Linked DNA regions of Homo sapiens. The protein of the gene in region 1 interacts with the protein of each later gene in a pairwise test. Each region holds a gene or a part of one and is shown on either strand. Other genes may lie near its edges.

What was found. Proteins that work in one complex are often made in the same cells at the same time.
Region 2: the proteins of HTT (region 1) and MSX2 interact in binary tests that used the Homo sapiens proteins (3 or more experiments, as listed by UniProt).
Region 3: the proteins of HTT (region 1) and KLHL20 interact in binary tests that used the Homo sapiens proteins (3 or more experiments, as listed by UniProt).
Region 4: the proteins of HTT (region 1) and WDR91 interact in binary tests that used the Homo sapiens proteins (3 or more experiments, as listed by UniProt).

What each region holds. Positions count from the first base shown.
Region 1 is NC_000004.12:3,241,569-3,244,457, reverse strand, and holds the end of HTT (huntingtin), read right to left. Parts: 3' UTR 501-2,889; downstream 1-500.
Region 2 is NC_000005.10:174,723,172-174,727,381, forward strand, and holds the start of MSX2 (homeobox protein MSX-2), read left to right. Parts: upstream 1-1,410; 5' UTR 1,411-1,488; coding exon 1,489-1,867; coding exon of another isoform or gene 1,868-1,893; exon of another isoform or gene 1,894-1,896; intron 1,897-4,210. UniProt on the Homo sapiens protein: Acts as a transcriptional regulator in bone development. Represses the ALPL promoter activity and antagonizes the stimulatory effect of DLX5 on ALPL expression during osteoblast differentiation. Probable morphogenetic role.
Region 3 is NC_000001.11:173,721,481-173,724,980, forward strand, and holds part of KLHL20 (kelch-like protein 20), read left to right. Parts: intron 1-3,500. UniProt on the Homo sapiens protein: Substrate-specific adapter of a BCR (BTB-CUL3-RBX1) E3 ubiquitin-protein ligase complex involved in interferon response and anterograde Golgi to endosome transport.
Region 4 is NC_000007.14:135,198,027-135,201,526, reverse strand, and holds part of WDR91 (WD repeat-containing protein 91), read left to right. Parts: intron 1-3,375; coding exon 3,376-3,500.

The sequences.
Region 1 (2,889 bases):
CTGGGAGCAGCTGGGCCAGGGACGCAGGTGTCAATGGCCAAGGAGGTGGAAGGGTGGTGGGCCCTGTGAGAACACAGCTCTAGTCTCTGTGCTGGGCCTGATGACCTGCTTCAGTGCCATGGGCCAAGTCCTGAGGCTTGTGTATGTCATATAAGCTTATGATGTCACTTGACCATGAAGGCTCCAGCAGCTCCAGCAGCTCCCACAGCTCCCATCTGCAGGGCAGGAAGACCACCTGTACTGTGGTTTGGGAAGGCCCTTGCAGAAGCACCCAGCCAGGCCCATGCCCTGGGGCCACTTCCTCATCCCTGGCTACAGAAAACACGGGGCCTGTCCCTGCTGGCAGCTGCCTGGGGGACCCTCCATAATGCCAGATGTTAGCTGGTGGGACAGTTTCTGCCCCTGCTGGAGAAGCACTTAGGAGACTGCTTCCTAAGACTCCAGCTCAGCAAGGTCTAGGTTCTCATGAAGCAAAGCAAGCCTCACACAGCAACAACTGATGGTTTCCATTTTTTTCCTTTAATTTGGATGTACAATGTTTGCAGCAGTTAAAAAATTAAATATACATCTCTCGTCAGTCCTTCCCTTTGCTCTCAGAAGCATTCAGGTCTGGGTGGGGCTCCGGGACTCGCCCATCACAGCCCTGCTGGCTCCAGGGGAGCTCAAGCTCAGCTGACAGTCCCTCTGACCACGGTGCAAAGCAGTGAGACCTGGACAAGGAGGCCCCACTTGGGTCAGAGCCCACCCTCCGTAGGCAGGTCCACGTTGGCCACGATCCTCCAAGGCTGGCAGTTACCACCCAGATTGCAGCGGGAGACTCTGCTCTTAGAAACAACTGAGGGGAAGGCGTTCCTTTGACTGCACCAGAGCGTGACAGGCACATGGGGGAAGAGCGGCCCCTGAACCTTCCAGGTTGCCTTCAGTTGTCATGCGGCATTCTGAGCAGCTCCCTCCTTCCCAGGAGGCCCAGGCCCGGCAAGCGAGTGTCCTCGTCTGAGCCATCCTGAGCTCTCCAAGGTCCCTCAGCAGCTCTCAAGATCTTCCTTCTTCTCACTCCTACACGTGACCCCTCTGGAGGACAGCTCCAAGTCTACCCTGGCCAGCAGCTGTGGTCCCGGGTCCTCCCCGCAGAGGGAGGAAGCGGGGGAGGGACAAAGCCCGATGAGGATGTCTGCTGGGAAGGATGCTCACAGGTAGCAAGAGAAGCCTGACTCCACCCACCAGACACACAGAACTAACCTCACTCCACCCCGCAACGGGAGGAAGTTCCACCTGCCAGGCGGCCACACACCGAGTTATTGCTGTCTACTATCCGTCCCGAGCTCCACGTGGGGCTCATCTCAGCTCCAAGAGGAGGAGCTGTTCATTGGCTCCGAGGGCTCTGAAATGACCCCCTCCATGAAGATGGGGGCGAGGGGTGTCCTTTAGGGCACAGGGCCTTCTCAGATGCTACATTCTGGGTGTCTGGAGGGGGTTCAGCTTCACATTTTCCCCTTGAAAGGACACATGCGCTGGCAGAAATGAGGGTGGACAGTAACAAAGAGCACTTGGCAGCTGGAAACATCACCTACATAGACTCAGCTGGGCCCGCAGCGGAAGGGAGGCACATTTTGGGAAAGAAACACGCTTCAGTGCATTGCCAAACAATTCTACCCTGGTTTCATTAAAATCTTTCCCGATATTACCAGCAGGAAAACAAAAGCAATCTCCCCACAGCCCACCCCCAAAACTTGACAACCAAATTAATCACATTTGCAACAAAATTTGGATAATACGATGGGTGCTTGCCACAGATTTTTAGGAACATGATAAAGTCTTCCTCCCTTCTGCAGAGAGCTGATATGGAGACCATCTTCGCCAGTGGGATCCTAGTGGGCAATGAATGAGCCCTGCCCTGACCACGTCCCACGCCTGGATGTCCGTCACGCGGCTAACTTGACCTGGCGGGTCTAAGGAAAGTCAACTTCCAGGAAGAACCGACACGGGCACTCTTAGAGGCCATGCATCTCCGTCTTGAGAGGTGTGTGTGTAAAATTATAGATGTGTCTATATGCACATGCATGGATACTTTATGTATATGCGTGGGTGAAGTCATTTTTACTAATGAGCTCATATTCATCTCCGGAGCACACAGGCAGGTCTTTGGGGGTGGGGGACACCTACTGCCAGAGCGGGGTGTTCTGAGCCCCTTGCTAAGGACTGGTTTAGATCACGTCGTAAACAAGAGGAAGACAAACTCTATGTTGAGCCCAGCGATATGCATTCCAAGGGAATGGCTCTGTTTTACATTCACAGTGTTATTTCTTACAAATGTAAACATCTAGCCAGGAACAACATCTGGCCTGTGATACTGCTGTCTCAGAGCTGCTGACATAACCTGCGGGGGAGGCGGGAGGCGGGTGGGGAGCAGCCAACAGTTCTGAGAACTTTCCCCTCGTTCCCAAACCTTCTAGCGGGCTTTCCAGGAAAAAGCTAGGATGAGAAACAGGAGCCCCCAACCAATACGGAATGGTGATTTTCTTACGTGTTATAATTCAGTAGCTTCCCTTAAGGGCCTCCTCAAACATCGGACCCCTTTCTACCGCTCCTGCTGCCCCGCCACGAGGACGAGGTGGTCCTGGCTGGGGGAGGCCTCTGTTGGGAGCTGGTGGGAAAAGCCTCATACAGGCCTGGCAGAGGCTGCTCAGAGGAGGGGCTCCCTTTCAGCTCCCCCTCACGTATGTGGGCAGCATACAAGTCCACATCTCAGCTGCTCCCCAGCTGCCACATAGGAGAGGGACAGGTGGAAGCTTGGGGGTCTCAAGGCAGCACCTGCACAGAGTTCCAACATTTCCTCCACTTACCACATTCAATACCCAAAACATCGACGGGCATGACCAAACCAAGCCA
Region 2 (4,210 bases), on another chromosome or scaffold:
AATACTCCTGAACTGGGAGGTAGCCTCCAAGCCTTGGTCATTTAAATAATTAAAAACAATGTCTCTCCCTTCCAATGCTCTAGGGAATGTTTAGCAAGCATCTGCTGTAGGCGAGGTCCTGAACTGGGTGACTTCCTATTTACCTCGTCAGTCGCAGGATAATCGTTCAGATATAGGAAAAGACAGCCGCAGCCTGAAAAAAGTCTTTTGAAGCTAACCTTCTAGGTCAGGCATTTTGAGGACCAGCGGAGAGATCCGAGGCCTCTAATCCTCGAAGCTCGCTCTCCCCTTCCCCAGGCTGAGACAGTCATCACTGAGGCTTTGGAAAGGAATTACCGAGGGTATAATTTGGGGTGGGGTGGAGACATCTATGTTTTTATAAAAAACCAGGTGCCATGAATAAAAATGTGCTTCCCAAAATGATATGTAGGCCTGGGGTGTGCAAACTTGGAAGCCGGTATTTCTGAGACTTGCAAACGAGAGGGAGGCACTAGATATTGGCGACTTTTCCTCCTCCCCCCCACCCCCATTACCCTCCGAGGCAAACACTGGCATTCAAACACGCACGACAAACACAGGCTCAAACAAACTCATGAATGCACACTTGCACTGTCTTGAGAAAAAGGTCGGATCCGGATCGCGCTCAGAAAGGAGGTTCAGGAGACAAGTACAGAGATTTCAACTTTCTAAAAGTGCGCTGGATTTGCTTTCTAGTGAGAGAGATGGGGACAACTGATTTAAATTCTTCACTCCGAACCATTTGGGAGAGAGGCACTCCTGACCACTTCTCGGGCTCCTTCCGGCCCCTCTTTTCCAGGGGAAAGAGTTGTAATAATAACAGTGGGCGCTTTTGAGCGCTGGCTAGTGGCGAGTTACTCTTCTAAGTGCATACATTTCTTTCACAGGGATACTGGCCTGTGAGTTTCAGCACCGACTTTCTGGAACTGTAAAGTAAGCCAATTTTGACGCATAGTAGGGGCTTCGTAAATGTTTCTGCAATGCTGTTTGCGAATCTTGAACTTATTCTGGCGGTAGAGGGAGAGTGGGATGGGCGCAGGGTCCCTTTTAAAGAAGGGTCAAAAGAGAGAAGAAATGGGACTCGGCGAACTTCCGCTTTAAATAATCGCTCTTAATTAGGTCTCGGGCTTTTCAGTTTCGGCGTGATTATAACCCTTCAGGGATCGCCTAATAACAACTCTGCTGACTGCTCCTGTAATTAACTCCTAATTTATTTCAAACAGGAAAAAAAAAAAAAAAAAAAAAAAGGAGGGGGGGCAGCCCCTTCGGGAAGAGCCAATCAGGGGCGAGCGTCTCTGGCGTCAGCGCCAGGCCCGGCGCGGATTGGCGGCGCGCGTCTCCCACTTCCCCTCGGAGGAAAGGCTCAGCTCCCAGCGCGCCCCTCCCGTCTCCGCAGCAAAAAAGTTTGAGTCGCCGCTGCCGGGTTGCCAGCGGAGTCGCGCGTCGGGAGCTACGTAGGGCAGAGAAGTCATGGCTTCTCCGTCCAAAGGCAATGACTTGTTTTCGCCCGACGAGGAGGGCCCAGCAGTGGTGGCCGGACCAGGCCCGGGGCCTGGGGGCGCCGAGGGGGCCGCGGAGGAGCGCCGCGTCAAGGTCTCCAGCCTGCCCTTCAGCGTGGAGGCGCTCATGTCCGACAAGAAGCCGCCCAAGGAGGCGTCCCCGCTGCCGGCCGAAAGCGCCTCGGCCGGGGCCACCCTGCGGCCACTGCTGCTGTCGGGGCACGGCGCTCGGGAAGCGCACAGCCCCGGGCCGCTGGTGAAGCCCTTCGAGACCGCCTCGGTCAAGTCGGAAAATTCAGAAGATGGAGCGGCGTGGATGCAGGAACCCGGCCGATATTCGCCGCCGCCAAGTGAGTGCGCGCCGGGGCAGGAGTAGGAGGTAGCGCGGGGTACTGGAGGGAGCGGGGGGCGGGTGTTCCAGGGCTGAGGGTACCGAGACCCTTCTGCGTGCGCTACACTCCCGGGAAAGCAAGCCCAGGGCCTCTGGACTCCTGGGTGCCCGGGGCGTTCGGCGCGCCCAGTGCGCCGTCCGCATCCAAGACACCCTCTGGGTAATAACCGCGCTGTGTGTGTCTGAGACTCCCTCGACATACAGATTGTTTTTTCAAGAGCGAACCCCAGCTGGGTTTACGGGGTCGCTCGGTGGTCCGTTTCTACAGCCCTCGGCCCTGCGCTCTGGCCACTTGGCTTGTTTTTGTTTCACTGTTCCCCGGAGTCTCTGCCTGGGGAGTGAAGGAGTTGGATCCATGTTCAGTGAGCACTTGGATGTACCAGGAACGAGACAGGTTCAAAACTCAACCCTGAGAGTTGTGCCCCCATTTTAAAGATGAGCTAACTGGGCTTAGCCAGACATTGAGGAGAAACCATTTTCTTTCGTGAGTCCCGCGGGTGTCGAAGCCGGATCCCACGAAGGGATGGTGGCACCAGGGATGGTGGCATCAGAGTCTGGTGCGGGGAGGAAATGTCTCTCTGTGGTCTCCGCAGCCAGCACCTCCCCGGCAAGGTTCTGAGCTTCGCCGGGAGCGGGCTGGGGCCAGAAGCGCACGGGCTCTTCTTGGCTCACAGTAATAATTAACCGCATTCCAGCAGGGCTTGAGAGTTTGCAGAGTGATGTTCACTAGCTCACCAGATCGAGATCCTCACTAGAACCCCCAAGTGTAGACACTGGACTTGTGACTACCCTATTTTTCAGACGTGGACGCTGAGGCTTTTAAAGAAGACGGCCTTTGCTTGTCCCAGGTTACCAACAACCACTGATTGGCCAGGGGCACCTGTTGCCCACGCCCTGCTCCTCTGTTTGATATGCCCTGACCACTTTTGCGTCCTCTCCCCAGAGAGACTAGGTAGAGATCCGCACCTGCACCCCACTTGAGAATTGAGGCTGCAGAGAATTCTCCGCTTCAGCATCCATTTTTGGTCCCTGAGTCCTTTTACAATTTGGAGACGTCATCCTTTACAGCCTCTTTTACTTTTATCTCTTGGCTTTTATGGTTTCTCTACCCCCTAATTTCCCACCACGCCATCCCCTACCTGTAGGAAAGGTGAGGGTGGGGGCTGTGGAGGGACTTTCTCCAAAGCTGAGAGAGATCCTTTCACTATTTACATCATTCAGCCCTCAAGACTAGACGCACTGTATTTTGTTAACAAAACAAGGCCATATACCCAGGCGTCAGTGGCTGTCCCCTCTGGCAGTCTCTCTCCACCCTGTTAGAAACTCTGAAAGATTCAAAGGGCGAGGAGATTAAGGGACTCAAAGAATTTAAACTCAAGTTTGGATAGTGCTTTATAGCACTTTTCACCGTATTATCTTATCTCCTCTGTAGGGCAGCAGCCGGCCTCTTAACAGATGAGGACATTTCAGCAAAGTTCAGAGAGGAATCGGCAGTTTGGGCCTGACCAAAAAAAAAAAAAAAAAAAAGCTGGGGACCATTTAATGATCACCTACCAGGTGGCAGACAGACAGGGCTCTGGGTACTCTTAAAATTTTAGTACTGTGGACCACATTGAGGGATTAGTGTTACTTACCCACTTTATCGACAGTGAGGTAGAGGCTCAGAAAATTAAAAGACTTAATTTGTTTAACAAATATTGAGTACATAGCCTACGCCTATGCCCAGCCAATGATACAGGCCTTAAATGGAGTAGTGTCCAGAGGTTAGGAATCCTGCCATCCTTTAGGCCTGTGGGTCTGGAAAGGCAATGACTACTACCCCTCTAAACATCTCTGCCCTGTGCTCAAGCTTCCCTGCTCTGGGTAAGGCAACCTCGGGCCCAGGCTGTGACCTTCCCATGAAAAGAACCAGAAATTCTGAGAACCGAGTTTATAACCTGCACATTCTGCACATGTATCCCGGAACTTAAAGTAAAAAAAAACAAAAAAACAAAAAAAAAACACCATGAAGAATTGTTGGTGCTTTGGGCCTGGAGGTGGCAGCGGGAACCCTGTGGTCAGAGTAGTGGGTCCTGAGAATGCCAGGCGACGGAGCCTGGGGCGAGAGGGAGCTACCCGCCCGGGCCTGATTTTGTTATTTGGAGGAAGTAGGATAAACGCTGTTTTGCCTTATATAATCGCATCCTTCCTCTGGCTGGTTTAAAATTAGGTGGGGGTGGAGGGATGGGGAGTGTTGCATTGGGAGGAAGCCTCATAGCTTCATGGTTTTGATACACATGTGCGATCCCGGTCACCTGGATTT
Region 3 (3,500 bases), on another chromosome or scaffold:
CACAGTGCTACCAATGAGATGTCAGCAGTAGTTGTTGAGGGGTATTCTAGGAAGGCTTTTGCTATCCTGATATAAAGGGAAACTAGCATGCTTGCATGAGGATTTACCCTTCCTGCTCCATCTTGGTCTCGATCACTGGACCAAGGCACCCAAGGCTTATGCTCATTTTATCCAATAAGCCGTGATGAGATGTCTTGGGACTAAAACATTCACAACCAAGTTTCAAATAAAGAGGTTAATAGCTTGGCCTTCTGGTGTGGAATCAGGTGTGGAATATAGTGCCTATTGGGACCCCTTCTACTAAGTAGAAGTGACACTTTGAGATGTTATTTCTGTTTTGAGGGTTTATACACTCAAATCTCCAGCTGTCTCTATTCAAGTATATTTAGGACTATAAATGAGGGTCAGTGCAACTGAATCTTTTTTAAGGTCAAGTTGTTAATTTTCAAAGTAAAACAAAATTTTTGAAGTAGGAAAGGTGAAATGTTCATTTAGATAGCGTATTAGTCCATTTTGCATTGCAATAAAGAAGTACCTGAGACTTGGTAATTTATAAAGAAAAGAAGTTTATCTTGGCTTGTGGTTCTGCAAGCTTTTCAAGAAGCACTTGTCACACATGTCACCACACCTGGATAATTTTTAAATTTTTTCGTAGAGATGGAATCTCATTTTGTTGCCCAAGCTGGTCTCAAACTCCTGAGCTCAAACGATCCTCCTGCCTCAACCTGCCAAAGTGCTGGGATTACAGCTGTGAGCCACCATGCCCAGCTAGCTTTTACATTCTTAAATGGTTGAGGAAAAAAGGCAAAAGATGAATGATATTTCCTGAAGTGAAAATTATATGGATGGACACCAATGGCTGGGGGCACAGTGGCCTACACTTGTGATCCCAGCACTTTGGGAGGCTGAGGCAGGAGGATCACTTGAGGCCAGGAGTTCTAGACCAGCCTGGGAAACAGAGAGAGTCTTTGTCTCTACCAAAAAATTAAAATTAAGCCAGGCGTGGTAGCATGCACCTGAGAGCCTCCTCAGGAGGCTGAGGTGAGAGGATCGCTTCAACCAGGAGTTTGAGGCTGCAGTGAGCTGTGATCATACCACTGCACTTCATCCTCAGTGACAGAGCAATACCTTATTTCTAAAAAAAAGAAAAAAAGATTCTACTATACTGATGCAGTAATAAGAGCATTATTTTTTTTTGCTATGGTAATTTTTTTTTTTTTTTTGACATAGAGTTTCGCTTTTGTTTCCCAGGCTGGAGTAGTGCAGTGGCACAATCTTGGTTCACCGCAACCTCTGCCTCCCAGGTTCAAGCAATTCTCCTGCCTCAGCCTCCCAAGTAGCTGGGATTACAGGCATGCGCCACCACATCCAGCTAATTTTTGTATTTTTAGTAGAGATGGAGCCTCACCATGTTGGCCAGGCTGGTCTCAAACTTCTGACCTCAGGTGATCCAGCCACCTCTGCCTCCCAAAGTGCTGGGATTACAGGTGTGAGCCACCGCGCCTGGCACTATGGTATGTTTAAAAGAAAAACGGAGACATTAGCTTAGTTTACCCACATTGTACTTAGGTGAAATAAAAAATTGTTTATATCTCAGTTCAACAGTAGCATCTTTATGTATGTAACTAAGGTTGTGACAATAACACTTTACTTTCAGCATGCAGTGTCAGTATTCCAGGAATTTTTGGTCTTCTGTCTTTAATTGTTACTTTTTTAAAAAAGAAGCTTGATTGTACCACTGTTAATCATGTGATTTATTCTTTCAGCATCTACTGTGTACAAGGCACCATTTTAGCTCTGTGGTTAAAAGCATTCTTGATTGTTTATATGGATGGTAAAAATTATTCTTTAACTGCTCAGCTTTATGTTTTAGTCTTTAAAATTGCCAAGCGTAAACAGTGATGTTTTTACCAGATGTATAAGTGTTTTGGAAAAATTGGTTGTTGTTGGAGAAAAGAAGAACCATGTTTTTTATTTTTGTGCTATATCTTTGCAATGCACATGCAATTTCTTCTCCCTAGAATGTCCTTATAGATTTTTCTGTCCTTCTCAGGAGACTCCTTTTACACTTTAGTGTTTTATTATACTGTAGTTCCCGTCAGTGCTACAGCTTTGGAAGTAGCAGACTGATAGGGATGCTGTCCTTTGCAGGCTAGATATTAGACTCTCTCAGTAGTTGTAGATAATTAGCATCTGAGAGAGACTCACATGAGGCTGACCTAAAACTCAGTGATCAGAATGCTTGAGTCATCCCCCTTTTAAGTAGCATGGTACTTTTGGAAGAATTTTCCATCAGAGGACTGCTTAATGAGTTTAGAATCAGAAACAGAAATATAACGATCTGGAGCATGGATGTGAGATATTTCACTTAAGCTCTGGGAAAACCCAGTGTAATATTCCTACTTTACAACAACAACCTTTGTAGTAACCTGATAGGCTATACCTGTGAGATCCAGAATCTTTCTGAATGATGTTAAACATATACTTCATAGATTTTGCCTTTCTGAATGACTTTTAAGCTTTATTGAGGTATAATTGAGGTACATATTTTATGTATACATTTTGATGAGTTTGGGCATATGTATATACCCATGATATCACCGCAATCAAGGTTCTAAACATATGTATCACCTCCAAAAATTCTTTTATATATATATACACATACACATACATGATATATATGTTTTGGGGATTTTTTTTTTTTTTTTTAGAGATGGGGCCTCACTATGTTGCCTAGGCATGGCAAACTCCTGGGCTTAAGGGATCCCCCCGCCTCAACCTCCCAAAGTACTGGGATTACAGGCATGAGCCACTAGGCTCAGCCTCCTCCGAAAATTCTTATGTTTGAACCACATCTTTTGTCCTGGTTGCCCTCTTACTAGTTATTCATGTATCTCCTCCTCTAGAGATTGCTTCTTTATATTACTTAGAATTTTCCACAGTCTATAGCAAAATGCTTTGTGTACATTAAAAGCAATTAGTAAATATTTGTTAAAAGAATAATTATTTTAATTAAGAGGCATAGATTGTCTTTTCTCTGCATGTTTATATAATGTGATCATACAAAAATCCAAATATCTTATTTCTAATTATTTGTCAGTAATTTGTGACTTTTACCTAGTAATTTAGCACCTGAATTTCTACATATGAAATATGAATATAAGATACAAATTTTCAAGCCAGGCATGGTGACTCACACCTGTAGTCCCAGCTACTTAGGGGGCTGAGGTGGGAGGATCAGTTGAGCCTAGGAGGTCGAGGCTGTAGTAAGCCGTGATCAAACCGCTGTATTCCAGCCTGGGTGACAGAGCAAGACCCTGTCGCAAAGAAAAGATACAAATTTGTATCTTATATATTATCTGGAATGACTTTTTAAACATAATAAAAGTATTTTAGGTATTTTATAAGTACTTAAAGGTAATTCTGAAAATTTCTTAGACCATCCCCGTTAATTTCAGCTAGAAAAGTGATGATATAAGTTCACTTTGTTATGCTCATTC
Region 4 (3,500 bases), on another chromosome or scaffold:
AATTGGTTGCTGTACCTGTTGTCATTATTACTGAAACGTTCATAGCATTATTCCTGTAAAATAGATGGCAAAACAGATGCAAAATAGATTGCTTTTGTATTGAAAGCCTGGCAGATACTCTCCAGGCTTTCAATATGAGTCTGGAGGCAATTTTTTTTTTTTTTTTTTTTTTAGTGGAAATAACTGCGAAACCACACTTCCCAAGCCCTTCTAGGATCTCTAATTACAATAGCCGGGAGGGCACATCCATAGCAGGCTTGCCTGGGCTGCTGCTTGGCTCACACAGCCTGTAGTTTGTACTCCATCCTTCCCACCAGCAAGAATTCTGCTCCTTTCACACCCACTTGGTGAGCCATGGAAATTACCTCATTATAGAGATAACTTTTAATCGGCTGTAATGTAAGGCACCAAAGCATCCACAAACTTCTGTGCTTGTGACTGTTATTAGTGTCAAATTACCTCCCAGTTACTGAGAAGTAAGTGGTCACAACCACTGCCCTGAAGGTTTTCCCCAAGGATCTTGGCAGTAAGGAGAAAGCCTGTCTTTCATTCTGGGATTTCTGTGTTATGAGGGCGTGTTTTCTGGGTAGCTTTGTTTAGCTTCAGGTGAGACCAAATTACTGGAAGTTGTTTGCTGCTCCATTTGGATGGCTGCCATCCTGGTAAGCTCTGTGAGGCTCTGGAATCCCTCATGACCTACTCATTCCACCGGAAATTAATGGGTATCAACTTATGTCTGTCTCCAGAGTGAGAAGGTCAAATGATAAGACAGAGGTTACCGTGTCTCTCCTGAACTGTAGCAGTCAGGTAGATTATGATAGAATATACTTTAGACTATTGGGATATTCTGTTATTTGAAGCCAGCAGTTAAAGACTATTATGAGGGTTGCACTTAAAATGAAATAAAACTTTCAATGAACAGTTATTTCATCTGTCCATCAGTCCATCCATTTGTTATTTAGCCAGTCATGAATGAGTGCCCAGCTTATGCGAGGCGTGGTGCTGGGTGCTAAGGTTACAAAGATGTGTAAGGTAGGGTCACAGTAGAAGAAGCTTCCAGAAGGGTGCAAGCTTCTCTGTGTGCAAGTGTCATTGTCTAGAGAGTACACAGTTCTGCCGGCATCTTTCACTCTCTCCAGCTCTTTACCCATACACAAGTGCTTGGCCAGAGTTTTATGGATTTGTTTGAAGGTAATTACTTACATAGCATTGTGACTTTACCCCTTTTTCCTTTGTTTTTATTTTTTAGCCTTTTATTTCTAAAAAATTAACAGTTGCCAGTAAGCATTCACTTGTTTTGTACATTTGTGGCTAGACACAAATTGGCCTTCACCTACTTATTAAAAAGTTTTGTGGACAACCGCATTCACCAGCTTTTAATATATTATTATCTTTTGTTATTCAGTGATTAACATAGATTTAAGGAGAAAGGAGAACCTATCCTCTTCTTTAAAGCAAAATCTGATAGGTCATGCTTAGGTCCATCACTGTCTTGGCGTAAACTGCCCTATCATTGTAAAGGTAGTTCTTCTCTGTACCAGATGCCTTCCTTGCTATCTTGACTTGTGAGGGAAGTATTACCTTTGTACTTCTCAGTGTTTTATTGTTTGCTCCTGCTGGGGAAGTGTTACAAGTGGCTTTCAAATAAGCCAGAGGAATTCGAAGCCTCCTCCTTCCATCAATATTCACCAATTGATTGAGCACTCTTTACTGTTGCTGAAAAAGGAAAAGACACCATTATCCAGTGGAGGGGCTGAATAAGGCAGGAAGGGGCCCATAAAGTGCCTGTCTCCCTCTGTAACAGTTCCCACCTTTGCTTCCAAGGCAGAATCCCCCTGTGACCCATGTAGAGCACGGCATACATGTAGCAGCACAAAATGTGGAAGCGGCACCTCCTGGACTGTGATGTGGCTGCTCAGTGTTTGCATTTTCAGTGATTTCTTCTTACGGGGGTTTCAGAGCCTTGTCTTGAAACAGGACACGACACAACTGCCTACCACCTCCCCAGATCTTAGCCTTGACAGCCAACTCCAACAGGCCACCTCCCCACTCCATCTCTCTGAAACTCTGAGGAGTGGACATTACCTCTCCGTGGCTTTTGTCCTCCCAGGACCCATACACAATTGTTATTGACACAATTCTGATACTTGGAATTAAATGTGTTTGTGGCTGATTGAGACAGGTTTACCATCCTTTCTTTGTTCACGGAAGTACTTGAAGTTTATAAACAGGCCAAAAATAGTAAATACCCTGCAGGTTAGTCATGGTTTGGTTCCAGGTAAGCTAATAGTCCTTTAAAATTTTCTTTTAACTGTTCACATGGCTGCAGGATTCCAAGGAATCCATGTTAATCATTTTAAATTATTTACTGTTGACATAAAAAATAACAAGTAGAAGAACTGGAAAGCAGCAGGTAGACTTTGGTTGAGTTTCTTCTCTTCACTTAGGGCTTGTGTAGAAATGGTTTCTTGAGAAGATTGGTCTCAAACCTGAGTAGCTGTTTGCATTCATATCTCTTTGCTAAGAGTGTAAAAAATGAGGGTGAGGGTGTTTGGCCATCACAATTTGTGGGTAAAAAGCTGGAAAAAGAGAGCCCTGCCCAGCAATCTGGAAAGATGTGGGGGTGGCAGCTCCTTTTAAGAGTTTCTAGATTAAGAATGGAGACTTCTTCTCTCTATACAGGTGGGGTGGGGATGATCAAATTCATCCCCTCTTGCTATAACTTAGCTGACCCTATCACTGTTGTTATGAAAAGGAGCCAGAAAATACCGGTTTATTTCCTGTCCGATTTATCTTTCTTAACATTCCTTGGGTTTTCAACAATTTCTGTTAAAAATTTCTGGTTTTCTAGTAATCATTTTCAAACACCTCAGTATTTGTTAATATTAGCTGGTTTAGTCCACACTTGGCCCAAAACAAGAGAGGGTACTGTGTTCCTTTTCCTTTTCCCTCCAGAGGTGATTGCTTGTTGCATAAATAATTTTTAGATTGCCCAAACATATTGTTGCTTGTAAATGTGTATAACACCAAGCGTAGGCCCCGGCCTGCCTTAGTCATCACTTAGTAAGTGCTGGCTCCTTCCCCTCAACTAGACTAAATTGTTCCGATTAGATCAAGATGACATCTTCCTCCAGATGAGAGATACCGCAGGATGAGGATTGCAGGTGACCTGTCCTCTTAACGGGTAGAGGACAGAAAGGAGGAGGTCATAGCAGGGGCTGACTATGACCTCACCTACATAGCTGAGCCAACACCATTTTAACCACCTGCCCCCAACCCACCACGCCCCCCCGCCCAGGGCTGACCACTCCTGGCATGCTTATCATGGCCTGGGCAGATGGGAAGAGACTTCACAGCCAGCTTCTTTTCCTCTAGGGCACCAAGGGAAAGGACCCGACGTCCGGAGCCAAGGATGGGAAGAGCCTCCTCAGCGGGCTGGCCACTGGGGAGTCCGGTTGGTCACAGCACCGGCAGCGGCGCCTGCAGGACCATGGCAAGGA